4 separate regions of the Homo sapiens genome follow, and all the other regions are reported to be linked to region 2. Evidence: microRNA targets listed by miRTarBase, many of them from high-throughput screens and not tested one by one. Region 2 holds a microRNA gene; each other region holds the end of a gene's coding sequence.

The links. Region 2 holds the annotated microRNA hsa-miR-449a (UGGCAGUGUAUUGUUAGCUGGU, at 4,969-4,990, shown strand). A microRNA usually pairs through its seed, bases 2 to 8, with sites in the 3' UTR of a target mRNA and lowers its output. Matches are read on the target gene's strand: a 7mer-m8 pairs with bases 2 to 8, a 7mer-A1 pairs with bases 2 to 7 and ends in A, and an 8mer does both.
Region 1: the mRNA of TSN is a reported target of hsa-miR-449a. Seed matches in the 3' UTR shown: 8mer at 1,805-1,812 and 8mer at 2,886-2,893.
Region 3: miRTarBase lists CTIF as a target of hsa-miR-449a. Seed matches in the 3' UTR shown: 7mer-m8 at 5,401-5,407, 7mer-m8 at 4,719-4,725 and 7mer-m8 at 3,756-3,762.
Region 4: the mRNA of TXNIP is a reported target of hsa-miR-449a. Seed matches in the 3' UTR shown: 7mer-A1 at 4,771-4,777.

Annotation. Positions count from the first base shown.
Region 1 is chr2:121,764,119-121,771,225 of GRCh38, forward strand. TSN (translin) reads left to right here. Exons shown (of 6, transcript NM_004622.3): 6 at 1,016-3,735. The coding sequence ends at 1,249. Among named protein-coding and RNA genes, the nearest start is that of TSN, 12 kb to the left of the region's middle.
Region 2 is chr5:55,168,459-55,175,575 of GRCh38, reverse strand. It overlaps MIR449A (microRNA 449a), which reads left to right and starts at 4,954; the gene lies at 4,954-5,044. It overlaps CDC20B (cell division cycle 20B), which reads left to right and starts at 2,399. Exons shown (of 12, transcript NM_001170402.1): 1 at 2,399-2,638; 2 at 2,926-2,988. The coding sequence starts at 2,576. MIR449B (microRNA 449b) reads left to right here and starts at 4,834; the gene lies at 4,834-4,930. It overlaps MIR449C (microRNA 449c), which reads left to right and starts at 3,223; the gene lies at 3,223-3,314. RefSeq lists silencers at 1,964-2,293, 2,381-2,675.
Region 3 is chr18:48,859,005-48,866,124 of GRCh38, reverse strand. CTIF (cap binding complex dependent translation initiation factor) reads right to left here. Exons shown (of 12, transcript NM_014772.3): 12 at 2,908-6,781. The coding sequence ends at 6,566. Among named protein-coding and RNA genes, the nearest start is that of CTIF-AS1, 21 kb to the right of the region's middle. RefSeq lists an enhancer at 3,206-3,757.
Region 4 is chr1:145,988,014-145,995,113 of GRCh38, forward strand. It overlaps TXNIP (thioredoxin interacting protein), which reads right to left. Exons shown (of 8, transcript NM_006472.6): 4 at 6,916-7,018; 5 at 6,531-6,787; 6 at 6,268-6,424; 7 at 6,003-6,154; 8 at 4,422-5,873. The coding sequence ends at 5,838. Among named protein-coding and RNA genes, the nearest start is that of TXNIP, 5.0 kb to the right of the region's middle. RefSeq lists enhancers at 4,695-4,774, 6,596-6,645.

The sequences.
Region 1 (7,107 bases), not on the chromosome of region 2:
TTGCCTGCAGGGAGGCAGAAATGGAGTCTATTGGAGTGGGTATGTGTGCATTGAAAACCTGAGGAAGATGGTGAGAATGGATGATGGGGTCCACTTGTAGGCTGTACCACTTGTCTGGCTTGTTGGAGACACCTGACCAGTAAACAGGAAGCATCTTGTTAGTATTAGTTAAGTGTAAGGTGTCTTTAGGACCATACATGTTGGGGCCGGGCACAGTCGCTTACGCTTGTAATGCTGGCAGTTTTGGAGACCAAGGTGGGAGGATCCCTTGAGGCCAGGAGTTCCACACCAGCCTAAGCAACAAAGCAAGACCCCTTCTCTATATTAAAAACAAACAAACAAACAAAAAACCCGTATGTTGACAGTGCACTAAAGGGGTAAGCCTGGAAAAGTGGAGAGGATTTTACAGAAAGGGGAATCTTTTTTATTATTTTAATATATTTTTTAAAGCCAGTCAAATGGAGCAGTAGGGGGTTGTATACTGACACCGAGAAGGGGAGTCTTGGGTTGGGTCTTGAAATCAATGTTAGTTCTCCTTCAAGACAGGGTTACACTAACATAATTTTAGATTCTTATCCCAAGTCTGCCTTACTTGATTCTAGGTGACTGGAGTTGCAGCTTAGTAGGTGGGCTCTAGAAATGTGATCATTTGGCCAAGGTTGGAAGAGGTAGTGGAGCTGCTGTGATTATTTTGTCGTTTCTTTCTTCGATATGATAGCAGATGAGCTGTAAAGATGCTTGTGTAATGTAACACTTTATTATGCAATAGCCAGTTTAAGAAATTAGAGAAATTTTAGATGTTAGTAATGTTAAATTTTACTTGGCAGAACTGGTCTCATTTTCAGTGGGATTCTTTTCAGAGAAGCTCCTGTCTTGTCTGTACTTGTGTGTACCCTGAGATAGAAGATCAGCGTGGCTGTCTAGGCTTGCGGTTCTTCTGGTTGTGATTCAGAGGAAGATGCGCTGAGAAGGAGCCATGTTGTAACAAGCCCCTGTTTTCTCTTTCCTGGTACAGTCGAGGCTGTCTGTCAACAGCGTGACTGCTGGAGACTACTCCCGACCCCTCCACATCTCCACCTTCATCAATGAGCTGGATTCCGGTTTTCGCCTTCTCAACCTGAAAAATGACTCCCTGAGGAAGCGCTACGACGGATTGAAATATGACGTGAAGAAAGTAGAGGAAGTGGTCTATGATCTCTCCATCCGGGGCTTTAATAAGGAGACGGCAGCAGCTTGTGTTGAAAAATAGGAGGCTCTCCTTGCTCCTGGCCTTGCTGACCTCAGCGGTTGCCAGGAAGGGGTGAGCACAGAGTGCCTCTTACGGTAGTTAGGATGCTCAGTTGCTAAACACTGCGCTTTATTTTCTTAACCAGTTGTGGTGTGAGTATCAGAATTGAAACACTTTTTTGGGGGTAAAAAATATAGCCTTTACATGGACAGAATTTTTTTTGTTGTTTCAGTGAATATGCCTGTAATTCAGTGTATTTCAGTTCCGTCAGAAAGTGTAAATGTTAGTTTCTTGGTAAAGTCCTTTTCTTGCTTACCTTGACTGTTGATGTACTGATTGAGAAGTTCATTGTCTCGTTTGTGATTCTTCCAGATGTGATGCTTGATATTTTCTATATGCGAGTTAGCCATCCACACCCAGGCATAGCCTGGATACAGTATAAAAATAGATAATTAAAAAGATGGTTGCCAAGCAAGGAAAACTTATTTTATATTTTCCCTTCCTTATTTTAAGCATTGTGAGTAAATCAGATGTTGAATTCTTTTGCCAAGGGAATTATAGCTGCAGGTTCTCTCTCACTGCCATCAAACTGTAAAAGATTAAACTGCGAAGTCAAGCTCAACAGATTATTTTGGAAAGTTTTTGTATTAAGGGATTTAGTAACATCATTTTGTTTTCCACCAGGCAGGGAGTAGGGCTTAGTGTTTTAAAACACCTCTGCTTTCTGATGTTGCCTTAATATTCTGCTATTGCAGCAATTAAAAATTGTCTTCATGTACATTTGGAACTAACACGTGATGTGATATATTCCTAAACTATGAAACCTTTTTCCTAGTAGTCAGCTAGATCATTTGTTCTGGGAGTATAAAGCCACCCACGTAAGTTAATAAGCAAAATCCTGACTATTATGTTGTTAGAGAAAAATGCTTTGCTTTGTCTGGAAGAAAGATAAAATAGTGAATTATAAATAAGTCAGGCCGGGCGTGGTGGCTCACACCTGTAATCCCAGCACACTGGGAGGCCGAGGCAGGGGGACTGCTTGAGCTCAGGAGTTCGAGACCAGCCTGGGCAACAAAGTGAGACTCCATCTCTATATAAAAACAAAAACCACGAAAGCACACACAAAATAAATCAGTGGGATTTGGTAATGTGTTTTAGAGTAAGAAATTTCAGGTTGTTGGTGACTATCCCAACAGTCATGTTTTAAATGTACAGTTTGGGGCAAGTCATGTAAATACTGTTGGTGGTCTTCCCCACACGCCCCAATTTTCAGGTAGTACTAAGAGTATGTGCCAGGAAACTCTTGCTATTGAATTGAGATGATTAAAATGGTGACTTAATCCGTAGTTATTTTGCACCCACTGAAAGGAAAGTGCTTTCCAGAATAATATGAAGTATCTAAAAGTGTCACCTTTTCTTGCCTGATCAACAATTTGGGCTTCCTGTTTGTACAAGGGGCCATTTGGCATACCTTTCACAGCTTTTATCAGGCCAAGTTAAAGGCTGACTACATTTTTTCATCATGAGGAAAGCAGTTGAAATGAGGCATGAGTTACTGTGCATTGGGATTTTAGAACAATTTTCTTGTGACAGCTCTTTTTGTGAAGTTAGGTTCTTAAAAGTGCCCATGATGGTCACTTAAAATGTGCAGTAATAGCACTGCCAGGATCAAGCATGAAAGGCTTTTAAATTAGATCATCCCACAGACAATACGTTTGATAATAGTTTTTTCTTTTAACCTCTTTAAGTATTGATTCTGCTTGAGAATATTGAAGTACTTGCCAGAAGTTGTGGATTTCAGTTTTAACAAATGCTATTAAAGTGGAGAAGCACACTCTGGTCTTGGAATTCCATTTGAGGATTTAGAAGTGTCATGTTTATAACTATTCAGTTGTGTTTGTTGCTGGCTTGTTGTAAAGCAATAAAATTTTTTTGGTCTTTTTGTAAGTGAGTGTGCTGCTGTAAGAAATCTCCCATGTGCATAACAAATTCTGAATATTTTTTGAGGCTAAAGAAGACCGGGGTGACAAGCAGATACTGCTGTGTAATGGTTACACTAACCAAAAGACACCAGCCACTCAGAGTTCTATACTGTAAAGCGCAGATAACATTTGTGTGTTATACCTTGATTGGGGAATTAAAAGTCATTTAACTGAAGATGTTGAGAAACCTGGGCTCTGGTTTTAGTATACCGGAATTACTTTTTTCCAATTTTAGAAAATCAAGCAGGTTAGAGAAAATAGAGATGAATTAGGGGACACTGTCTTATGGATTCATTTATAAGAAGAGAACCAGCCATATACACTTGGGGAGATTTGCCACATCTTAAACTTGAATAATAGTATGAGTAATGCTTAAGGGAGTTTAATAGAGAAGGAAAGCTTTGGCAGTGTTTTGAGAACTTAAGTGGCTAAAGAGATGAGACAAACATGCAGGTCGCTACTGGCATAGTTTCATAATTGTGTACTCGGAAATTAAAGTTTGCTTGTTTCTTGGTCTGGATTAAACTGTTTGTCCTCCTTTTCAGATAGAGCATCACAGTCAGGGCTGACACCAAAATAAGACTTTCCCTGAGCCTGAAATAATTTTTTTTTTTTTTTAAGTATCTACTGTAATAAGCATCAAACAAGCAGAAATAAACAATGTCCCTTCCCCTGGACAACAACAACAGCAATAACAAACATTTAAAGGCGGTAAAATTGCCAGGACTGGTGGGTTGGTTGAGTGGGCTGGGTGCGGGTAGTAGGACGAGATGGGACGGGACGGGGAGGAATCTAGCATCGCTGCCAGGTTTCTGGCTCAGGTTTGGTGCCATTCACTGAGGTGAGGAGTGTAGGAAGATCGCATGTCTGGAGGGGGCTGGGCAGCTGATGCATTTGCTTTTGGATGTGTTGGATTTATGACACTGGAGCGGCAGGTGGATAAATCAAAAGTGGGTAAGATCTCCCTGGAGAACGTGTAGAATGAGAAGAGTCACAAGCTGGGGACAAATTCTTGGTTAACAGCATGGCTTAACAAGGTAGGCAGAGGAAATGGAGTCCATGAGGAAGTGGAGAAATGGTCAGAGAGGCTAACAGAATGGGAAGAGTGGCTTGTTTCAGAAGCCAGGGAATAAAGGGTCTTAAGTTTTGGGGTGAGGGATTTAAAATAATCTACAGCCTGGGAGCTCCATGACTAATCTGTCAGGTTACGCTAGGTTATCCTGTGGGAACACCACCAGAGCTCATAGGCAAAGAACAAGGTTTCTCACTCACATTCCCTCTCCATTGCAGCTTAGCTGGGGATCTGTTCCACGTTGTCTTTATGTAGGGTGACAGAGCAGCCACTAACTGGACCATTGCTAGTTTTAGTGGGAGAGGGAGGGAGCTGTGGAGTGTCTTGCACAAATACATGATCTGGTCACTCTGACAATTATTGTTTTTTTTTTTTTTTTTTTTTTTGGAGATAGTCTGGCTCTGTCACCAGGGCTGGAGTGCATTAGTGCAATCTGGGCTCACTGCAACCTTCACCTCCTGGGCTCAAGCGATCCTCCCTCTTCAGCCTGCCTAGTATCAATAGCTGGGACTACAGGTGCAGGCTACCATGCCTGGCTAATATTTAAAATTTTTTATAGAGACAGGGTTTCACTATGTTGCCCAGGCTGGTCTCAAACTCCTGGGCTCAAGTGATCGTCCCACTTTGGCCCCCCAGTGTGTTGGGATTACAGGTGTGAGCCACTACACCCGGCTTCAATTCATTGTTTAAAGGTAGACACGTGGCCCTGCTAAACCACAAGGGGGTCGGAAGTGAAATCCTATCTTGTAGGATGAGAGTCAGGAATGGATAGACAAAATACTGAAGTTTGGGGGTATGTTTAGTTCAATTTGTTAAATATATAGTTGTAATACTTCCATATACACATGAACACCAATTGGCTTGGGAGGGAGAGAAGGTGCCCCAGGACCACTCTCCTGTTTGACAGAGTTCTCTGGTATGTGTGCATTTGTGTTGGATTTGTGTTACATTTTAAGCCAACATTCAGCGAGCTCTATGTGTTCCATGGGCTGGGCTAAACATTTTGTTTAATTATCTCATTTTGTCCTTATATAAGACAACTATGTGAGGTAGCTACTACTATTTTCCCTATTTTAGACTTGGCTTAGAGAGGGCAATTAACTTGCTGTGAGTTCATAGTTATGAAATGAAAGCGCTGCTGTTCAGAACCCAGTTATTTTGCCTCGACATTGCAACAGACCATTTCTTCCTGGATGCTCTTGCATGGCATCCCTTCATAGCCTGACAAGACAAACATCAAATCCGCAAATAGTTAAGAGCACAAAGTGTGTGTTTAACTTTGGGCTAAGTGTGGTTTGTCATAAAAATAAGCATGAAAATAAATAGACTTGGTCCTCACCCTCAAGATGTTTAGTTCTAGTTGCAGGGGAGGAGGTGGTGAGAAAAGAGATTAAACAGGTAAGAGGTTAAATATTCAACTAATATTTGAGTGCCTACTATGATCTATTTTTAACAGCTTTATTGAAATACATTCACATGTAAAATTGACCCATATCAAGTGTATGATTCAGTGATTTAATTTACCATGTGGTGGAAGCATCACCATAAATCAGTTTTAGAACTTTTTTTTAATCTCCCCAAAATATCCCTGCTCCTACTGCCAGCCCTAGGCGACACTAATCTAATTTTCATCTCTATAAATTTGCCTTTTCTGGATATTTCATAGAAATAGACTCCTACAGTATATGATCTCTTATGTCTTTTCGCTTAGCATAATGTTTTAAAGGTTCATAACATACGTTAGTTTGTTCCTTTTTATTGCTAAGTAGTATTCCATTGTTTGGATATTCCACATTTTTTTTTTTTTTGAGACGCAGTCTTGCTTTGTCACCCAGGCTGGAGTGCAGTGGCGTGATCTCTGCTCTCTGCAATCTCTGCCTCCCGGGTTCAAGTGATTCTCCTGCATCAACCTCCCGAATGGCTGGGATTGCAGGTGTGTGCCACCACGCCCAGCTAATTTTTGTGTTTTTAGTAGAGACAGGGTTTTGCCATCTTGGCCAGGCGGGTTTTGCCATGTTGGCCAGGCTGGTCTTGAACTCCTGACCTCAGGTGATCCGCCTGCCTCGGCCTCCCAAAGTGCTGAGATTACAGGCATGAGTCTGGCCAGATATTCCACATTTTATCTATACATTCATCACATGATGACACATTTAAGTTCCATTTTTTTGGCTACTATGAATAATGCTGCTCTGAACATTAGCATGCAAGTCTGTGTGAACGTAAGTTTCTATTTCTTTTGGATAGGTACCTAGGAATCTGTGGTAAAAATGGTAAGTTTATGTTTAGTTTTTAAAGAAACTGCCAATCTGTTTCCAAAGTGGCTGCACTATTTTAAATTCCCACCAGCAATATATGAGGGTTCCCTACTAGGAGTTTAAATTCAAGACAATAACAGAAAAGATGTCATAGTCACAGTACTTAGTTTCTAAATAACTTTTGAATAATTGCTATAGTTTGGGAGCTGTAGCTTGAACTAGGTCATGAAAAGAAGTGAGTTTTTTTTTTCTTTCTATATATATATATATTTTTATTATACTTTAAGTTCTAGGGTACATGTGCACAACGTGCAGGTTTGTTACATATGTATACATGTGCCATGTTGGTGTGCTGCACCCATTAACTCGTCATTTACATTAGGTATATCTCCTAATGCTATCCCTCCCCCCTCCCCCACCTTTTTTTTTCTTTTTGAGACAGTCTTACTCTGTTGCCCAGGCTGGAGTGCAGTGGCAAAATCTTGGCTCACTGCAACCTCCACCTCCTGGGTTCAAGCAATTCTCCTGCCTCAGCCTCCTGAGTAGCTGGGACTACAGGTGTGCGTCGCC
Region 2 (7,117 bases):
CAAATCTTAACATTTTATATAGCTATAGTACAATAATCATAACTAGGAAATCAGCATTACTACTACTCTATTAACTAATCTGCAGATATGGATCAATTCAAATTTCTACAGTTATCTAACCAATATCTTCTTTTTTGTGGTCCAGGATTCAATCCAGGACCTCGCAATGCATTTGGTTGGCATGTCTTGTTTCTTTTAATCTGTGACAGTTTCTTACTCTTTCTTTATTGATGACTATGATACTTTTGAAAAGTACTGGCCAATTTTGTGGAAAGTCTTTTAATTTGGGTTTGTCTAGTATTTTCTCACTATTAAGGTTATGCATTTTGTGGGGCAAAAATATCACAGAAGTGATGTGTCCTTCTCATGAGGCACAGTATGTCAACATGTCTCACTAATGGTGATGTTAACTTTGATCACTTGGTTAAGGTGGTCTCTGCCAGTTTTGGCCAGTGAAAAGTTGTGATTTTATTTTTTGTGTTTAATTATAGGGGGAAGTATTCTCATCATATGCAAGGTAATTTTAGTATTCTTGACAGTTATTACTGTAATATTTGCCAAGTGGCGAGTTTCTGTTTCCATCATTCTGAAGTTAAGTTTTAATCTGAATATTCAACTGCATAATTACTTCCTAAAGATATTTGACTAATACTTTCTCTACTTCACACTAGGGGAAAAAAAGACATTTGGAGGCTGTGTATATGTATGCTGTGGAATTAATGGCTATAATGGAATTTATAAATGTATTTTTACAGATAATTGCATTCTAAATGAATGATTCACTATTCTTAGTACTTGTAAGAAATTGGATTCTAAAAATCCCAATTTACATGGATTTATGAGCTTATTAGTTGAATTGCTTTTATTCTGTGTTTATACAAAATGGTTAAATGTAAACTATATTTAAAAATAGAACAAAGATAATATGTCCTTCATATTATTTCCAATATACTTTGAGTTTTAGTTGGCATTTGCAAAACTGATCATTTAAATTAACAATGCATCTGACTCTCATCCAATAATAGTTTACTTTTATTTAGTCTTAATGTTTGCTGAAAGATTTACTGGAATTTGGAATGAGTACTCCACTGCAAGGAAAATAGACTTCTTGTGGGTGAAACTTAGAGATCTTTTAATCCACTAGTTATTTGACTATCAAACATTTTGATATATGTCATTTGAAGATTAAGTTACCCTATGCAGCATTATTATTGTACATAGAAAACTGGTCTAAGATTGGGTCTTAGTTCTAATGCCATTTTTTCTTGCTTTCAGTATGAAGGAAAGCAGGGGAGTGAGTTTTAGGTTTTTTTTTTTTTTTTTTTTTGGATCACTGACCCTTTTGAGTATCTGCTATCTATGAACTGTTTCCCCAGAAAAACACACAAACTCACATTGCCTTAGAGCAAAATACAATCCAATGTCAAAAATGGTTGGGGGGTTAGCAAGGGAGGGACAAACAGGCTGCCAGGCTGTCAGAGGCTTCCCAGATGCAGTGTCCCCTCCTGCCATATGGCACAACTCGGCTCTCTTGGCAGCTCAGATGGGCAGCTAAGGCTGCACAGCCCATCTGGTTCCCTGTCATTTCCCGCCAGACCTCTTCCTCAACCCTCAATATCTTCCTCTCCCCCTTTATCACGGAGTCCCCAGTGTGCTCAGCTTTCTGGCCCCCTCTTCACGCCTTATGAGGTCCTGCCTGTCACTGGTTCTTTCACTACCTCTTCACCTCTCTCACCTACCCCCTGCTAAGGAACAGGGCTCAGAAGCCCGAGTGAGAGGACCTGACTACTCCCAATGTATAGAGCAGGGAATAATTTATTGCATAAATATGTCAACGCTCTCCCTTTTGATCGGCATAGAAATCTTGCCACGTTTTCTTGCCTTCTGAAAACGAAGAGCTGACGAACACGCCTCACATCTATAGCTGACACAGCGATTACCAACGGACAGAGGCCGGAGAGCTGTGCACGCTCGGATCCTGCAAAGGCAGGGTGTGGTTGGAGAAAGAGAAGTGGGTGCAGAGGAACAGGGATCAGGGCCGTTATAAGGAAACATTCTTGTTTCTGAAAATGGAAAGATCGTGAACTCCCAGAACCCGCTTCTTCGCCCGCCAACCCCTCCGCCTCCTGCCGCGGTGGCAGCCCCCGGCGCCAGGCCCAGCCGCAGGCCCGCCACGGCTCGCGGCAAAGCTTGGCGCCCGGGTGCGCGCCTCGGCCGGAGGCGGTGGCGGGGCGGGGCCCAGAGAGGGCCGGCAGGGGCGGGGCCGCGGCGCGCGCCGGGGAATCCCACCCGGGCTCTGACGACACCGCGGCGCCGGCCAATAAGAAGCCGGCGAGGGGGATTCCCGCGCCGACTGCCGCCCCGCCGGCTTTTTAAATGGTACCCTGGGGAACACCTTGCAGCGGCGGTGGGAGGAGTGGGGGACCTGGAGGGAGGTGGTGAAATAGAATGGTCCTGGGGGACGGGACTCCAGGGGTTTGACGATTAGGCGTCAAGACTGACTTAGACCTGGGAAGAAAACCAGAGGCAGTCGAGCAGAGAGGCCAAACGCCAGGCAGGGCGAAGTCAGCCGGAGATGGAGTGGAAACTGGAGCGCACCGCGCCTCGGAGGGTCCGCACGGAAGAGGAGATGCTGTGGGTGAGTAACACCCTTTTCTGCATTCTCCCTAACTCTCTAATGCGGGGCCGAAGGCCCCGTTCATAATATCTGTTTAGGACCAAGAGGTGGTACGAAACTCTAAGCCCTGGTCGTAAATTTGAGTGATGTAATTTAGTTATATTCTGAAGGTGCCTAGTTGCCAAAAAAAAAAAAAAAAAAAAAAAAAAGTGTAATCTGACAAGCACAAGATCTAGAAAAATTCCACACCTGAAATTATGATTTTCCTAAATAGTTTCTCCCTCAATATGTTATCTGTGTTTTCAAAGGAAAGTATCATGCGTGTGCTCTCCAAAGACTTGAAGCAGAAGAGAAGTCAAGATTCCGCCAACGTGAGTCCAGGGCTTGTTCTTGTTCTCTGTTTTAATTCTGATCTTGAACAAACGAATTCTTGGTAAATAATGTATTTGTAGGAAGTTTGAGCTGGTCTGAAAATATGAGAATTTTAGTATCTTATTACATACTAAAAAAAATTTCTTTATGAAACTGAAGATCCCAGACAAATAATGCAATCGTTTGCATCTGAATCGTACTTTCTAGTTTCTGCCTCCACAGCAAAGGATAAAGCTGGGATGTGTCAGGTAGGCAGTGTATTGCTAGCGGCTGTTAATGATTTTAACAGTTGCTAGTTGCACTCCTCTCTGTTGCATTCAGAAGCACGCCCCCCAAAGAAATGGAAATGGTGCCATCTTGTGGACAATGTGGAGAAGTGGCATAAACCATGGTTCTTAACGTGAGCAATTTAAAGTTGATCCAATGTAGTACCTGTTCTCCTTGAAAGACCAAACCCAAAGGTCTTTAGTGTCTCCTGTAATCAGTGTAAAAGGAAACAAATTTAAATGGTTTTATAAACGTGTTTCATAAAGAGCCTTCATCTGCTTTAAATCTCTGTCACCATTTACCATGCTTCTCTCTAGGCTCAATAGTTCATCTTCCTTTGACCTGTACGCAGAGATTCTAGTTCCAAATCCACCACCATTTTAATAGATTTTTCTAGATCTTATATAAATTTTGCAACTAGGCACTGTGGCTCATGCCTGTAATCCCGGCACTTTGGGATGCTGAGGCAGGAGGATCACTTGAGGCCAAGACTTCAAGACCAGCCTGGACAACACAGGGAGACCTTGTCTTTATAAAAAAACTGCAAAAATTAGCTGGGCATGATGACATGTGCCTGTAGTCCCAGCTACTTGGGAGCCTGAGGCAGGAGGATTGCTTGAGCCCAGGCGTTCAAGGCTGCAGTGAGCTATGATTGCACAACTGCACTCCAGCCTGGAGGACAGAGCCAGACCCTGCCTCTTAAAAAAAAAAATTCAGTATTCAAGTGGTAACATCCTATATTGAATACATAATTGCATTTTCAGAACTCGATTACTAATGTCATTTCTAGTAGGAGAAAACTAATTGCATTTAAGCCCTTACATTTCTTAAATACTTTAATGTTGATTTTTTCCCCCAAACACTGCTGCAGTTTTGTGTCGTGCACAGCTTATGTATTATCACGACTCCTAGATATTTTACTGTCTAATACAGACAAGTAGTCTTTGGATCAGTAAACAGAAGTGATTTGAAAAGCTATAGTTAAGTAACTTTTTATTTATTTTTTTGAGACAGAGTCTCACTTTGTTGCCCAGGTTGGAGTGCAGTGGTGCAATCTCGGCTCACTGCAAACTCCAGCTCCCGGGTTCAAGTGATTCTCATGTCTCAGCCTCCTGAGTAGCTGGGATTACAGGCAGCACCACCACGCTGGGCTAATTTTTGTATTTTTAATAGAGACGGGGTTTCACCATGTTGGCCAGGCTGGTCTTGAACTTGTGACCTTAGGGGATCAGCCAACCTTGGCCTCCCAAAGTGCTGGCATTACAGGCATAAGCCACTGCGCCCAGCCTACAGTTAAGTAACTTTTAAAATTCATTTGTACTGTAGAACATATTTTTATCCAAGCATTTAATTTGGAAAACCTAAATGTAAGTATTCTGAAAGTTTTAAAGTTTTTGTTTAACTTTTATGTTTTTGACTAGATTCAAGCAAATATTGATTTTATTTCTTATAGTCTTGAAGTAATACATTTTGTGTATAAGTTTTCTTTAATGTGACTATTAAGATTAGAGTTCTGCCACTATGTTTCATGTTACAAATTTAGCCTCAGTGACTGCCTGGGCCACGAGAATCGGCAGTGACCTGAATCAGGTAGGCAGTGTATTGTTAGCTGGCTGCTTGGGTCAAGTCAGCAGCCACAACTACCCTGCCACTTGCTTCTGGATAAATTCTTCTTGTCAATGAAGTGCTCTGGATACCTGTGTGTGATGAGCTGGCAGTGTATTGTTAGCTGGTTGAATATGTGAATGGCATCGGCTAACATGCAACTGCTGTCTTATTGCATATACAATGAACATCAGAGTGTAACTGAATCTGTAATTAGTGTGTGTTTATGTGTACTTTCTGCTATGAAGCAAGCCACTATTTACCATAATATATTATTGCCATTAGCTTATAATACAGTAATACTTACAATGCACAGTTTTATAATGGTAAGGAAAGTATTACAATTACTTAAATTTTTTCCTTTTAAGAAAAATTTACTTATGCCTGCTTTTCCATAACTAAAAATTTTTAAGAAATATTTTTGGAGTCTTTGGAGTCTTTCGGAGTAGACAGTGTTTAAGTATTTATGAAATTACATGTTTTTAACTATAAGGTTTAGAATGTAATAACAATGTGGAATGGACCTACAATGTGTCCCCAGATTTTCAGTGAAGTCTTTAGGATTCTTTCTGCATTATTAGTTTCTTTCTTTTTTTTTTTTGAGACGGAGTCTCGCTTTGTCGCCCAGGCTGGAGTACAGTGGCGCGATCTCGGCTCACTGCAAGCTCCGCCTCCCGGGTTCACGCCATTCTCCTGCCTCAGCCTCTGGAGTAGCTGGGACTACAGGCGCCTGCTACCATGCCCGGCTAATTTTTTTGTATTTTTAGTAGAGACGGGGTTTCACCGTGTTAGCTGGGATGGTCTCGATCTCCTGACCTCGTGATCCACCCGCCTCGGCCTCCCAAAGTGCTGGGATTACAGGCGTGAGCCACTGCGCCCGGCCTCTGCATCATTAGTTTCTAAATACAGCATTAGAATTGGTTTCTATAGCCATGACTGTGTGTGTACCAACTGAAGGGAAAGTTGAGGTAATTTTCCAGATGAGTCAGTCAACTAAAACATTTTTCACTTGAAATATCAAGAATATTGGGGATTTTTTTTGGGTGGGGGATGGTTTACATTTTTTTGGAAGATCTACCTCAATCCTTTCACTTCATTTTCTGTAAAATCACAGGTTCATGAAATATTTGGAAGACAGCATGAGATCTAACAACTTGTGAAGTGGGAAGAACTGACCATACAATATGACCTTAAATATATTCTCATTACCTTGGAGGCATTTTGACCCACGAAGTAGCATAGATATGTGCTGGCTTCCAGACATGCAGTATTCTTGTGCGGACATTTGCAGCCAGTCAGTGGAACTGACTTTGGTGGTGCCATCAGTTAGTTAAGCCATAGATGAGATATAAGAAATATTTCGCATTCTCTACTGTACTGGATTATAAGTTATTGGTAAAATAATTTTTATGCTTTCCTTATTTAAACATATTTCTAGAACATGGGTTAAATAGATATCTATAATTTGATTCTTACGCATTTTACTACTTTCAAATCACATCCTCTTTTTGATGTTGCCCAGTGTTATTCACTTTCAGGAGATTTATGTTTAAGTATATCTTCCATGTAAATATTATTTTCATCTTGTCTTTTTTTAAGGTTAAATTTCAACATGTTATTTTCTATAAAGAATCACTGACCTAGTGATAAAAATAAAACCTACTAAATTTAGAAGCTTTGGCTTTTGTGTGTTAGTTTTTTTAAATTAAAGAGCAAGATATAAAATGCCAACTTTATTTTATTTTAGATCCAGGGGGTACATGTGCAGGTTTGTTACATAAATATAATAGGCGATGCTGGGGTTTGGGCTTCTAGTGAACCTATCACCCAAATAGTGAACATTGTACCCAATAGATAGTTTTTCAGTCCTTGTATTCCTTCCTTCTACCCCTTCTGGAGTCCCCAGTGTCTACTGTTTCCATCTTCATGTCCATGTGTACCCATTGTTTAGCTCCCACTTAGAAGTGAGGAACATGCCGTAATTGATTTTCTGTTTCTGAAAATGCCAACTTAAATTTTTTTAAGTTTTCTTTTTTAGAACTTTTGATTCTGTAGGGAAACCAACTTTATATTCAATAAACAGAAGACATTTAAAGTTGTGGTTTAGTCTCATATTATCGAGATGATGAGAAAAGAGGGAAGGAATGGAATGAAATAAAAATATGTTAAAGAAATAAAAAATATGTTAAAGAGATGAATGGGTTAGGAGGAAAGTGAAGATACAAATTAAAAGAGAAAATGTTTCCATAGGTGGGA
Region 3 (7,120 bases), not on the chromosome of region 2:
AGTAGGCCCTCACCAGACCATGACTATGCTGGCACCCTGATTTGGGACATCCAACTTCTAGTATTTTAAGAAATAAATGTCTGTTGTTCATAAGCCACCAAGTCTATGGTACTTTGTTACAGATGCCTGAATGGACTAAGACAGGAGCCCACAAAATGTTTTTTAGGGGCCCACAAAGTGTTTTAATTTTTTTAAAATCAGGGGTAAAAAAATGAACTTCTAGGTGGGAGAAAATGTTTTAATAAAAATAATATATTTGTCTCTATTACCAATGTAGTCATAATATTTCCATTTTTTTTTTAAATGGAAGAAGGGGCCTATGAAGGCAAAAGTACCTAAGGCCCATAGGAGTGAGAATGCAGCCCGAGTCCATGGTATGGATTCTGTTCCACATTCAAGCAACTTGCCAGAGCCCCTGCCCCATGTTGCAGATGTGCCAGCCAGTGTTGTTTCAGCCAAGATGGCAGACCCTGAGATTGCAAAAGAGCACAGCAGCATGGCCTGCTGTCCCCAGACAATAATTCTGCACTACTTATGACAGCTCTCCATGGCCATCATCGTACTGTGTTCCAGGAGTGATGGATGGCGGCTCTCAACCATCTTTTCTCTTGCACCCATCCAAGGCATAGCACACATGTACCAGTAAGAAGAGGGGCTCCCCAAGGCCCAAATTCTGAAAATATTGGTGTGTATGTGTGTGCTGTTTTAGTATGTAGTTTGAAAATGTTCCCAGGCAATTCGGGTATTGACCCTGATGCTTGATATGTCCCCCTATCAGGGTCCCCCTCACTGGCCTGGGGGAAACTGGGATCCAGCAACACACACTGCACATATGATAATGGGTCCTTTTATAGAACGGCACCAAATTCTGCACCATCGCTCCTTCTGCCCACTCCACTGAAATCTCCTGATCTGAGGTATTTCATCATGGTCCTAGTTTCCACCAATGAAGCGGGAAGCCCACGTGGCCTGCCCGCAGCCTGCCGAGTCCCGGGGGCAGCTGGCTGCTCCTTTTGTCTGGCTGGTGTGACTGGCTGGCTCCCTGGGGCGCTGCAGGGATGAGGAGTCTGAAGGACCCACTCACTTTCTGGGCTCACCCTCGCCTTGGCTCTTCTGGTGATCAGCCTTTGGCGCATCTATAAAATGGGAATCGAAAACACTCACCTGCCTACTTCACGGGACCAGCTGAGACCGTGTAAGGAAGCCGCTGCGGAACTGCAGGAATGAGGGAGATCAGTAAGGCAGGACCACTTCTTTCCCATTTCAACTGCTCAACCCTTTATTTTTCTGCTATCATCATCTTTGCCTTGGTCCTTAAAAGGCCCTTATAAGTTACGCTGTGAGCATCCCAGTACAAATGTAAACAAACACTCTAAAATGACAAGAGAATGCCTACAAGCAGAAAGATGGTGGTGAAATCAGGATTGAAACATGTATTATTTCGATGCTGTGTCTCGTAGTATTCAGTAACTTAGGGCCTTCTGGAAGCAGGACTAGCCCATCCAGGAAAATCTCCTTTCTCTTTTGCAGGGTGTGATAAGGCTCTCTGTTCCTCATCGTCGCCCTACCTTTGATCTTGACCTCCAATGTCTGCTTCTACTGCTTTGCATTTTTATAAAAATAAATTTGGGCCTGGCACGGTGGCTCACGCCTGTAATCCCAACACCCTGGGAGGCCGAGGTGGGTGGATCACTTGAGGTCAGGAGTTTGAGACTAGCCTGGCCAACATGGCGAAAACTTGTCTCTACTAAAAATACAAAAATTAGGACTGGAAGCGGTGGTTCATGCCTGTAATCCCAGCACTTTCGGAGGCCAAGGCAGGCAGATTGCCTGAGCTCAGGAGTTCAAGACCGGCCTGGGCAACATGGTGAAACCCCACCTCTACTAAAATACAAAAAAAATTAGCCAGGCGTGGTGGTGTGTGCCTGTAATCCCAGCTACTTGGGAGGCTGAGGCAGGAAAATTGCTTGAACCTGGGAAGCAGAGGTTGCAATGAGCTGAGATCGTGCCATTGCACTCCAGGCTGAGTGACAGAGCGAGAGTCCATCATCATCTCAAAAAAAAAAAAAAAAAAAAAAAAAAAAAAATTGGCCCGCCACATACCTCAGTTGTTTAATTAAAATGTTCTCTCTCTCTACCCAGTCTGTGGACTTCTGGCTGTCCCTGTCAGTGTCATGGTGGGTGTGTGACTCAGTGAAGGGCAAGGCCCGAATCTCAACATGCCTTCACCCGGCTCCTGGGAGGCCCTGGCCGCCATTGTAGCCAGGCCAGGGAAGGAGGAAGGGAGTTGGTGCTCTGGTGCGACCCCTGCAAGGAGCTGAAGGACCAGCAAGTTCTAGCCAGAAAGAATCCCCAAGGAAAGGGGAGCGTTACCAGGAAACAGTGTCCCCAGTGCCTTGCCATAGACAAGATTGTGCAAAACAAGAGACATGTCATCACAGGAAAAGAAATCACTGGGCCCTTTGGGGACTCGTTGATGAAAGACTCATTTGACCAACTGGGACTGGACAGCCACTCGCTGTTGACTTTTGAAAGCCACTGGGCCCAAATCTCAGCCCTCTTGAAATGACTCATTGCCAAATGCCACAGTGACATTTCCAGGGAAGGGGTAGGTTTGGGGGGGGTTGGTTAAACCAAACCTTTAGTGCAAAAGCCATTTTGTCCAGGACTGGCTTGATCCTGGACAGGTCCAGGTCACTTTGGATAGGTCATAGTTAGTTCCCAGTTTTGGGGGATGTAAGTAAGTCTCCTTCACCCATGGTCTCCTGGACCAACTTCTTGCAAGAATCTTCCCCTCAGCTCATCTCCTGGGCCAGCTCCTGGAGGCCCTGCTAGTATAGCTGAGGCACATGAGCTTGGGGAAAAGGTTTCTTTTGCTGAACACACAAAGAGCACAGACTCTGGGCATTTTGTTTTTGGTGGTGGTGTTTATTTTTTTAAACCCACTTGTAGTTTGGGTTCAGCTGGAAAGCAGGACATACCGACGGAGGGAGGGTGGTCGCACTAGCGGGGTTCCGCGGCAGCTTTGGCGGGAAGCCCCAGGCCCTTGCTCTGGGGAGGTAGGTCCTGTCGTCCACTCCCAGCCGGCTCAGGGAGGCGGCCAGCCCTTCCGTGTGAGTGTTCCGCGCAGAGGAAAGTTGTCTTTCTTTCTTCTGATCTGTGTCCTCAAAGGCCCAGCCAATGGTTTCCCAACACAGTGCCCTGCAGCTGAGGGACACGACTCCCCAGGCAGGCCTGAGAGTCTGTCTGTCTGACAAGGAACACGGGCCGGTGTCTGATGCCAGAAAACAGACTGGGACTTGGCTTCTTGGAGGCCCGCGTCTGGGGCACCCCATGGGGCTGCTCTGGTGGCGGCCTGGCTGTCTGGGCCCCCGCCCCTACAGCTGCCCCGGCCTGATCTGTGGTACCCTTCCCACACCCCCCACCCTCATCCCTCGGAGAAAATAATAGAATAAAATAAAAATCAATCAGAATAAATACCGACTCGGCCAACATTTACATTTACATGGATGGACAGGACGATCCCCAAACAGTGAAGGTTTACAGACTGGTCAAGGAAGGACGAACAGAGAGAATGGGGTCTGAGGGTGCACATCCCGTGGAGGGTGGCGGGGCTCCTGGCCTCGTCTGGGTGAGGTTGGGGGCCTCGCTGGGGCTGCGGTCCCAGAGCTTCGGCAAAGCCACCAGGCCTTGGGGAGCAGGGCTGTGGCAAGCAGGCCGCCTCGGAGAAAAACAATGACTAACTCATCCTGACAGGCAGTGGGGAGACTGAGACAGGATCAACATCAGATGGCTGGACCGCCTCTTCCATGCGCCAAGAACCGCGGGCGAGGGGAAAGCAATGCAAGCCTTAGAAATGCAATATCCAGCTCTGCCTCTCATCACATACATTCAGAGGTCAACTCGGACGCGGCCTTCCTCATGCCACAGAGAGGGGATGGACTTGGGGAGGGGGCCAGGGTCTGTGGGGCATCCACTTCTGTCCTGCAGTTCCTGTCTGAGCAGTCTCCCTCGGGAAGCTGCCTCGGGGTCTCAAATTTTAGGCTTGACTGTTGTTTCTTTAAAAAAAAAATAGTCTTAACGTTTTCCTTCCATATCTGAAAAAGGAGCAGCAACCTGCATTTAGAAAAACAGCTTAAAGTGTTGTTGTTCAGATTGGCTAGGAAGCGCTTTCAAGCAGTGGAATAAACTAGGCAAACAGTATGTCTGGAGCCACCGTGACACGACATGTAATTAAAAATATATTTATATATGTATACATATTTATATTTCACTTCTTCTTCACACTCTGGTCCTAACAGCCAATGGGGAGCTGCCCCTGTGGCCAGGCCATCAAGGAGCCCGTTCGGAGGAAGGAGAATCAGGCCCCAAGGTGCCCACAACACAGCCCCCTCCACACAGTGTTTCGGAGCGTCCTGCGTGAAGCTTGCTCTGAGCTCACCGTTGGGTCTGGGAGACCCCACTCCCCTGCCTCCTCCCTGACCTGAGCTCCCACTCCCAGGTCTCTCCTCTCTTCGGGGGCCTTGCCTCCTCCTAGCGGACAAACCCCACATGCTTCAGGGGGGCAGGGGCCACTGAAGCACAGGTGGAGGCTGCCTGGCCACGATGGCAAGCTCGCCCTGGGGCCTGCCCTGAGCAGCCCCGCATCAGCCCGGCTCCTCCCTCGAGGCCTCCTACCCGCGGGGCATCTGTGTTCCCAGGCTGGGCTGGGGAGGAAGGGCAGTGAGGAGGAGCTTGAGAAAGTCTGGGAAGAAACCGTGGAGGGAGGAAGAAGGCAGGGTTCAGGGCCAGGGACCAGAGGTGGCGTGCGCTTCTTGGGAGAGACCACTGACCTGTTTCAGGTAAACTTGTGCCCCCTACACCTTGTCGCCAACAGGCTCTTTTTAGAGACAGGCAAAGGCTCCACACCTGGGACCAGAGGGCAGGTTGCAGCTGCAGGGAAAGCTGGAGAGAACTGGGGAAGCCTCTCCCCACTCGCCACTCTCAGACTCAGAATCAATCAATCACGAGAACCTTCCCCGCCCATCACCTCCCGGCCAGTCCAGTGTGGACCAAGAGGGGCCTCCAAAGTGACCCAGGGCCTGCCCGGCCTCAATAAAAGAGCAAATAAGGAAGCGGCTAGGCTCTGACATCATTTCCGGGGGGGCTCATCAAAGTGTGTGCTCCAGCCCCCAGAGATGGAGCTATGTGGACACCTGTTCCACCCCACACCTTCCTCTCCAGCCAACAACAGGGCCTGCTCCCCAGGACCAGGGCCTGCCAAGAAACCCCGTCTTGTTTCCCGGCTGGGAAGCTTCATCTGGCGACCCCGCTGGTCACCTGACTGTCCCTTCCATGACCCAGTGAATTCACCCCTTTCCCAAGAGCTCACGGAGGGCTGGGCTTCTACGTCCGAGCTGGGGCAGTGACACAGCGCATTAGCTAAAATCGAGTCCTGGGGAGCCCCCACTCCCATCCTTTTCCCCAGTAAGACCTGCGTGTGGAGCGCAAGACACCATCTAGAATTTTGGTTTTAATTTGCCAGTCTCGTTCTGTGCCCTGTTTGCCACAAGGCCCCTGGGGCCAGGACCAGGTTTAACTTGGTCCCAGTGGTGACAGTATCAGCCCTTTGAGAAAACAGAGGCGCTGGAAGCCAGTGGCGAGGAACACAGGATTCCAGCGGGGACCCCCCGCCGGGGCAGAAGTTTCCAATTACCCTAATTGGCTACTGGCAAGCTGTCTGTGGCTCGAATCCTTCTTCTAGAGGGGAGCTGGGTTTGATCTCCCACTAATCCGGGGGTCCTCAACAGTGCTGACTGTGTGATCACATCACGGGCATTTTCATTGGCCAAAGAGACTTCAAAGCAACCGACTTTTGAAAAATAAAACACAATAAACAAAAGAGTGCAAGTGGAACTGCAAACTCCATCTCCCCCGCTGCGCCTGACCCCCTAGGCCTGAGGCTGTGGGGGCTGCAGTGAGGAGGACTTGGAGGTGGGAGGTGGAGCGTCAGCTCTGCCATGGCTGACAAAGGCCGTCAATTACGGGCGGCTGGTGGGGACCGTGCCTGCCTTTGTCCTCCCGGACATCTGCTACACGTCGCCTGCTGCCAGTTGGCGACTGCGGCTGACAGCATGCGGGAACAATGCGAGCCCGTCTCCGACCCACTTTTTCAGCCTTCCGAGGTCCTTTCTGACCCAAGCGGTGCCCCGGCGTGCGAGGCTGCCAAGGTCTCCGAGGAGTCACAGCGATGAGATCCCTCACACAAAGCTCCGTGGGGGATGGGTCTGATGGGGAGGGGAGAGGCGGGAGTGAGGAAGGGGAGGGCCAGGGCCACCAGGAAAAAGAAACATGCTTCCCTTATTGGTGTGAGCTTGCATGCTCGGGCTGGGGGGCTTGTGCGGGGGCACTCCTCTCAGGGATTTGCTCCCTTCCCCGTCTGGCTCCAGACTGGCCACCGACTCTGCCTGCCCTCCTCCCCATTTCTTTCTCCCGCCAGGGCCACCCCTGTCCTCCCGCCTGTCCATCTGGCCCTGTGCACCAGGGCCCCAGCTGCCCGTGGGCCGCCTGCCAGGCCCCCTGGCTGTCAGGCTGTCAGTTTCTGGATGGTTCTGTTGTAGTACTGCGTGATGGGGGGCGTCAGAGGGTTCCAGCTGTTAGCGTGGAGCTCGATGACCTCTAGGAGCAGCGACCGGGTCAGCATGGACTCCGAGGGGCACAGCATCTTGTCCCGTGCGCTGGCCAGGAGCTCTGTCATCATCTCAGGCAGCTGTTCCTCCAGCAGCCGGCCTGTACTCTGCAGCTGCAGACAGAGATGTGGGGTTAGGATGGCCTCGGGTCCCACAGTGGCCCACTGGCCACCCTGATTAGGTGGGCAGGGATAGGAAATAGCTGGGTTGTCTTAAGGACACACAGGCCCAGACCCCTGTGCCACAGCTGGAATGAGGACAGGGAGAGTGGAAGGTGGAGTAGCCAAGAGTGAGAGCTCACATTTACCAACCAATCTGCCAGCAGGATCCAGAGGGATCCGAATATTGCCTACTGCCCAGGGCTGAAAGAGCTGTCACCAGGAACATGCCTCTTGTCCCTTTTACCCAAGAGCCTCCCTCTTCCAGGAAGCCTTCCCTGACTACATCCGCAC
Region 4 (7,100 bases), not on the chromosome of region 2:
CAAGGTCAGAGTTTGCTATGATTGTGCCTGTGAATAGCCACTCCACTCCAACCTGGGCAACATAGTGAGACCCTCTCTCAAAAAGAGAAAAAAGAATTGTGCAAAGGTCACTCCTTGACTCCACTTCATGCCCTTCAGCTCTTGTGTGATTGTTTTTTGCTGAACATGTGCTTTGTCAGATCCTCCCCTCCACATTTTTCCTTCCCAGTGCCTCAACCCAAGTTAGATCCTTGTGTTTCCAGTCTGTTCAGAGGTATCAATCAAGGCAGCCAATGACTCTGGTTGTTGAAGTACCTGTTTTTTGTTTTGTTTTGTTTTGAGAAGGAGTCTCTCTCTGTCTCCCAGGCTGGAGTACAGTGGCGTGATCTTGGCTCACTGCAATGTCTGCCTCCCAGGTTCAAGTGATTCTCCTGCCTCAGCCTCCCAAGTAGCTGGGACTACAGGTGCCTGCCACGCCTGGCTAATTTTTTATATTTTTAGTAGAGGCGGGGTTTCACCATGTTGGCCAGGCTGGTCTCAAACTCCTGACCTCAAATGATCCACCCACCTTGGCCTCCCAAAATGCTGAGATTACAGGCATGAGCCACAGCACCCGGCCCCTTTTTCTTGTTAATTTTATTTTCTTGCCCTTTTCTCTCTTTAGGTAGTTTTCTTTTTTAGTTCTCTCAGATCTCCCTATACCAGATTAAACCTACTGAATAAATGATACTCAGAACCACATCTCCTCTAATCATTGTACATGTAGGTCATAGCTACTTAAAAATTAAAAGGCACGTGAGAAGAGGATAGGCAAAGAAGACCCAGAATATTCCCCCACTTAAGTGGGGAAATAGCTAAGCCACTCCCCAAGGAAGTGTACTGAAGCAAGCCTGTACGCGGAAAATGTCCTCGGGTGAGGTAGAAGTTGTATACACAAGGCAAAAAGAAGTAGAGTGGAGTTTTTGTGCTGTAAGAGAAGGATAGGTTTCCTCTGGGGGAACAGCTCTAGCTGCTTACTCCCTTAGATTTTGATGTGGTATTCAATATGGCAGTCACTAGTCACTAGTCACTAGTCACATATGTGACAGTCACTAGTCACAGAAAGCTAAAGTTTAATTGAATTGAACAAAATTGGGCCGGGCACAGTAATCCCAGCACTTTGGGAGGCTGAGATGGGCAGATCACCTGAGGTCGGGAGTTCAAGACCAGCCTGACCAACATGGAGAAACCCCATCTCTACTAAAAATACAAAATTAGCCAGGTGTGGTAACGCATGCCTGTAATCCCAGCTACTTGGGAGGCTGAGGCAGGAGAATCGCTGAACCCAGGAGGTGGAGGTTGCAGTGAGCCGAGATCACGCCATTGCACTCCAGCCTGGGCAACAAGAGAGAAACTCCATCTCAAAAAATAATAATAATAATAAATAAATAATTAAACAAAATTAAAAATTCAGTTACAGGCTGGGCACAGTGGCTCACACCTGTAATCCTAGCACTTTGGGAGGCTGAGGTGGGAGGATCGCTTGAGCCCAGGAGTTTTGAGACCAGCCTGGGCAACATGGCAAAACTTCATCTCTATGAAAAATACAAAAATTAGTCGGGCTTGGTGCCATGCACCTGTAGTTCCAGCTACTAGGGGGCTGAGATGGGAAATCACTTGACCCTGAGAGGTGGAGGCTGCAGTGAGCAGAGATCATGCCACTGCACTCCAGCCTGGGAGACAGAGCAAGACCCTGTTTAAAAAAAAAAAAAAAATGTGTGCACAGCACTTTGGGAGGCTGAAGTGGGCAGATTGCTTGAGCCTAGGAGTTCAAGACCAGCCTGGGCAACATGGTGAAACCCTGTCTCTACAAAAAATAGAAAAAATTAGCTGGGCATGGTGGCATGTGCCTGTAGTTCTAGCTACTTGGGAGGCTGAGGTGGGAGAATCACCTGAGCTTGGGAGGTCAAAACTGCAGTGAGCCAAGATTGTGCCACTGCACTCCAGCCTGGGAGACAGAATGAGACCCTATCTAAAAAAAAAAAAAAAAAGATAAGAAAAAAAATCAGTTTATCAGTCATAGTAGCCACATTTCAGGGCTAGTGGCTACTGTATTGAAAATTTCCATCATCATAGAAAGTTCTATTTGGACAGCTGGATAAAGGATATTAAGGGTATCCGGAGGAGATGCCCATGTTCTGGCCCTTCCAGGATCAGATCTCTTTTTTTTTTTGGAGACAGTCTTGCTCTGTCGCCCAGGCTGGAGTGCAGTGGTGCAGTCTGGGCTCACTGCAACCTCCACCTCCTGGGTTCAAGTGATTCTCCTTCCTCAGCCTCCCGAGTAGCTGCAATTACAGGCGTAAGCCACCGCGCCTGGCCCTAGGATCAGATCTCTAAGAGGCCTTGGGTATAAAGTTATCTATCCTTTCGAAGCCATCCCTCTTCTCATATTGGGTACTGGTAGCCCAACTGTGCACACAACCAGGCTCATGTACTCCATGGTCTCTCCATTCCTTTGTCCTGCTCTCTGGCCTGCTCTTATCATTGCTTCACCCCTCTAGGCCCTGGAAAACAAGCTACAGAAAAAACTTTTCCATCAACTTTGACCTAATTTCCTGGTCACAGATTTGAAGGAGAGGAGCCACTAAATTCTTGCACAGGTGAGAAAGGGGCGGAGAGTTCAGGTGAAAGTCACCCTGGCAATAGGGAGAAATAGAGACTGACACTTTGGTAATGAAAGAGAGACAAAGAGAGGGAGGAGAGTGCTATGGAAAATGAAAGATAAACGAAAAATGAGGATTGAAATGGAAAAGGATCTTTTAAATCTCACTTTCTGTTAAATTCACATTGATTTTAGTTTGCTTATTATTTATTTATTTTTGAGACAAAATCTGTCCCCCAGGCTGGAGTGCAAGTGGTGCAATCATAGCTCACTGTAACCTAGAACTTCTGGGCTTGAATGATCCTCTTGCCTCAGCCTTGTGAGTAGCTAGAGCTACAACACCCCACACTGATTTCATGTAGAATTTCCAGGAGCCTGTTATTTGGAATTAGTTTGTGGAAGTCCTCAGAAAAATCAATTCCCAAATAAGGACCAGGACCAGATCTGTGCAAATATTTAAATTGGCCATCCCAGGGTTTCTCCACCTGTCGGTTCTTTAGGAATGAAAATCACTGCTGGGCGCCATGGCTCACACCTGTAATCCCAGCACTTTAGGAGGCTGAGGCGGGTGAATCACGGGAAGTCAGGAGTTCGAGACCAGCCTGGCCAACATGGTGAAACCCCGTCTCTACTAAAAATACAAAAATTAGCTGAGTGTGGTGGCTCATGCCTGTAATCCCAACTACTCAAGAGTCTGAGGTAGCAGAATCGCTTGAACCTGGGAGGCGGACATTGTATTAAGCCAAGATTGGGCCACTGCACTCTAGCCTGGGAGACAGAGCAAGACTCTATCTCAAAAAAAAGAAAGAAAGAAAGAAAGAAAGAAAATCACACCAATTAAACATGGGATTGTGGTATTACTCTACTACTATTACCCTACAAGGAATAGGAACCATCAAATCATCTAAGGGATGAGGGTGAAGTTGAATAGTTAGCAAACATTTACTGAGTTATGTGCTTGGTTAGGAACTGTGAAAATAAAAAATGGTTAGCTGCCTCCAAAGAATTTAATACTCATAACTCTATAACCTCTTAAGTCCTGAAGTTATCCTTGTTAGTATATAAATCAAGTTTACATTGGGAAGAAACCCTATGATAAAACCATATTGTAAAAAGGGGATCTTCAGCTGAGTGTGGTGTCTCACGCCTGTATTCCCAACTCTTTGGGAGGCCAGGGCCAGCAGATCACTTGAGCCCAGAAGTTTGAGGCCAACCTGGACAACATGGCAAAACCCGAACTCTACAAATAATCAAAAAATTAGCTGAGCGTAGAAAAAACAAACACATACACACACACACACGCACACACAATTAACTGAACGTAGTTGTGTATGCCTGTAGCCCAGCTATGTGGGAGGCGGAGATGGGAAGATCACTTGAGCCCAGGAAATCAAGGCTGCAGTGAGCTAAGATCATACTACACTCCAGCCTGGGTGAGTGAGACTGTCTCAAAAAAAGGAACCGCCACTCTTTTCTTTCAAATGCCCTCATAAACATCATCTCCCTGTATTTCAAGAACCCATGAACTCCAAAACTGAAGGAATTTAGTAATGATTACCTATGGATTTGGAAAACTAGTTTAGACAACCGGAAAATCCCAGTATAGTTGTTCAGTGAATCTGAAACATGCCTCAAACGGTTTCCCTCTTCACCTTCTAGCCCCCACTCTGCCGACATTCCTTAGGGTCCATAGGGAGTGTTTTCTCCACAAGGTTTTCATTAGTGTGGATTGTTAAGTAGAGGAAAACTCCTTTAGACACACCTTCTTTCCAAAAACTTTTCCAAAGCCATCTCACAGACATTTTTTTTTCCATTAAAAAAACTTTATTTTCATTTTTTACAAAGAATATCCCCATCTGGGGTAAAAATATATCTGGTTAAGTACAAAATATAGTCTTTACCATACAAAAAGATACATAATACAAAAACATGAAACCAACCATCTTCAGCCCACACTTTCTGGCTGTAATAACTCTCAGAAAAGGGTGGAGCTCAGTGCTCTGACACAGGACAGTGAACAAAGTGCTATGGCTGAGAGTGACTGACCAAGTGCTGGCAGCTGCAGTGAGGGGCCAATATCCCTATCTCCTAACACAGGGCAGGAAGGGGGTTCAAAGGGCTTTTATGAAGACCTGCCCTCTAGTTTCTCATGGCAGTATTTGGAGGTTCTGATCACAGGGTTGGGCATCTTGATCAAGAGTTCCTCCTTGGGTTTGAAGTCACAGTGGGCAAGGCTGACAGCAGCAACCCTTTCACATGATTTAAGCGTTAGAATTATATAATTCTGTACATTGGGGCAATCTCAAAAGTAGTAAAATTTTTTTTGTCTTTTGGCTTAACCCTAGAGACACAGTAGACCAGTTTCAGCTTACATTTAAGATGGCAGAAGGGGAGAACAAAAAATTTGACAGGAATTAAAGTGCTAAGAACATCACCTTAGAATCAATTCCAAGGACTTACATGAAGAGAAAACCATCCTCCCATATGAAAATATTTGCAGTAGGAGAACACAGTGCAATAGGCTCCAAAAATGGCTTTTAAGACCTTTGGTGGGGCAGTTACTACTGCTTTAAAAGCCAGGTTAAAGTATACTCTAAGCAAAGATGACCGTAGAGCAGCTAGCTTCCTTTTTTATAATCACAGGGAAAGCTCTCTCCATTGTCCATCAAATCAGCTCTAGAAGGTTTTTCTTTTTTTTCTACAAGTGCACAAAGGGGAAACACTGATTTTAAGAACCTCCTTTTCCCAAAGTTTTGGCCACAATTTCCCTTTTCATCTTCCTAGTTTGTTAAATTGGCTCTTCTCCACATGATACGTAAGTTCAAGGTCCAAAGTTCCTATCACAATTTACAAAAAGCCTCCAAAAAACCTTGAAAAGCTTACGCCAGGAGGCCATTTTTACCTGACCCGAAACTATCGAAAAGGCCTCAATTTTCAAGGAGATCTGAGAAAATGGATGGGCCTGAGTTTTTCTAGTTATTTTTAAACCCATCCAACAAACACCCCTGTATCACAACATGGGCGCTGGCTGAGGATGAGTCCGCATCCTTTAAGGCCCAGGAGATTGCCTGCTGACCACCTCCTACATTAGGAAGTCAGAGGCTAAGGTGGACCCACACTCCATTGCAGAGACTGTTGAGTCTCTGAAAAAGTGAGTGTCCAGGAAGAGAGACAAAAAGAAACAAGTAGGTAAAGCTGCTTCTTTTCTTCCACATGCTCACTGCACATTGTTGTTGAGGATGCAGGGATCCACCTAAAGAAAGAAACAGACTATTTCAGTTCAGGTAAGAACAAAAAGAACAAACCAGTTTAGCAATCCGTCTAAGTCAACTTCTTATAGAAAGCTTAGGACAAATTTAACAGTAAAGATGACAATCCTCACCTCAGTATAAGTCGGTGGTGGCATGAACTTGAACTCAGGGGCATACATAAAGATAGGGCTGTCTTGAGAGCCATCCATGTCATCTAGCAGAGGAGTGGTTGGGCTCTCCAATCGGTGATCTTCAGGAATGACATCCATATAGCAGGGAGGAGCTAGAAAAGAAAATATGGCCACATAAGAATCCTGCCCAAGAAATGCTGGACCATCACAATTTTACAAACCCAGGTAGACCAGAAACAAAGAAAAGACATTAGGTCTGGCTCACCTTCTGGGGTATCAGGGATGTTCAGATCTACCCAACTCATCTCAGAGCTGGTTCGGCTGGCCATGCTGGATGTTCTGCTGCTTAGACCTGATCTGCTGCCAATTACCAGGGGCAGGTCAAGGATGACCTTCTTGGATCCAGGAACGCTAACATAGATCTAGAAAGGAAGATGGCAGTTTATTACACCAGAGGTCTGGAGAAACAAGACAGCTGTGGTAACAGATGAACAATTTCTCTGCTGAAGCCACCCTGCATCTACCCACCAGTAAGGAATATTCAACTCGAAGGATGTTGCAGCCCAGGATAGAAGGCCTGATCTTCTGAACCCGAAGGCTCTTGCCACGCCATGATGCGCATGTCCCTGAGATAATATGATTGCCTCTGACTGATGACAACTTCTGAGTCAGCACCTTGGTCTGGCCATTGGCAAGGTAAGTGTGGCGGGCCACAATGGCAGCTTTGGGGACCACAATTCGGGAACATGTATTCTCAAAGTCAGCATGGATGGAAATCTCATCACCTAGCAATGAGAAAGATGAAAACTTACTGATACTCAGTATAGTTAATGACACTTCCTCTACCCCAGTCCCATGCCCTTGCCCCTAAACCCAGTTCCTGTTTTAACTGCCATAAGCACTAGGATTTTACCTTCACAGAATCCTTTTCTGTCAATTCGAGCAGAGACAGACACCCGCCCATCAGGAATGAACATGCAGGAAACTTTCTTTTCTTTTTTAGCAGACACAGGTGCCTATATAGAAGGGGATAAAAAGGTGTTTTGAGATGCTTCAATCTAATGCCCAAGACGTCTGATTTATCATCCTCATGACCCA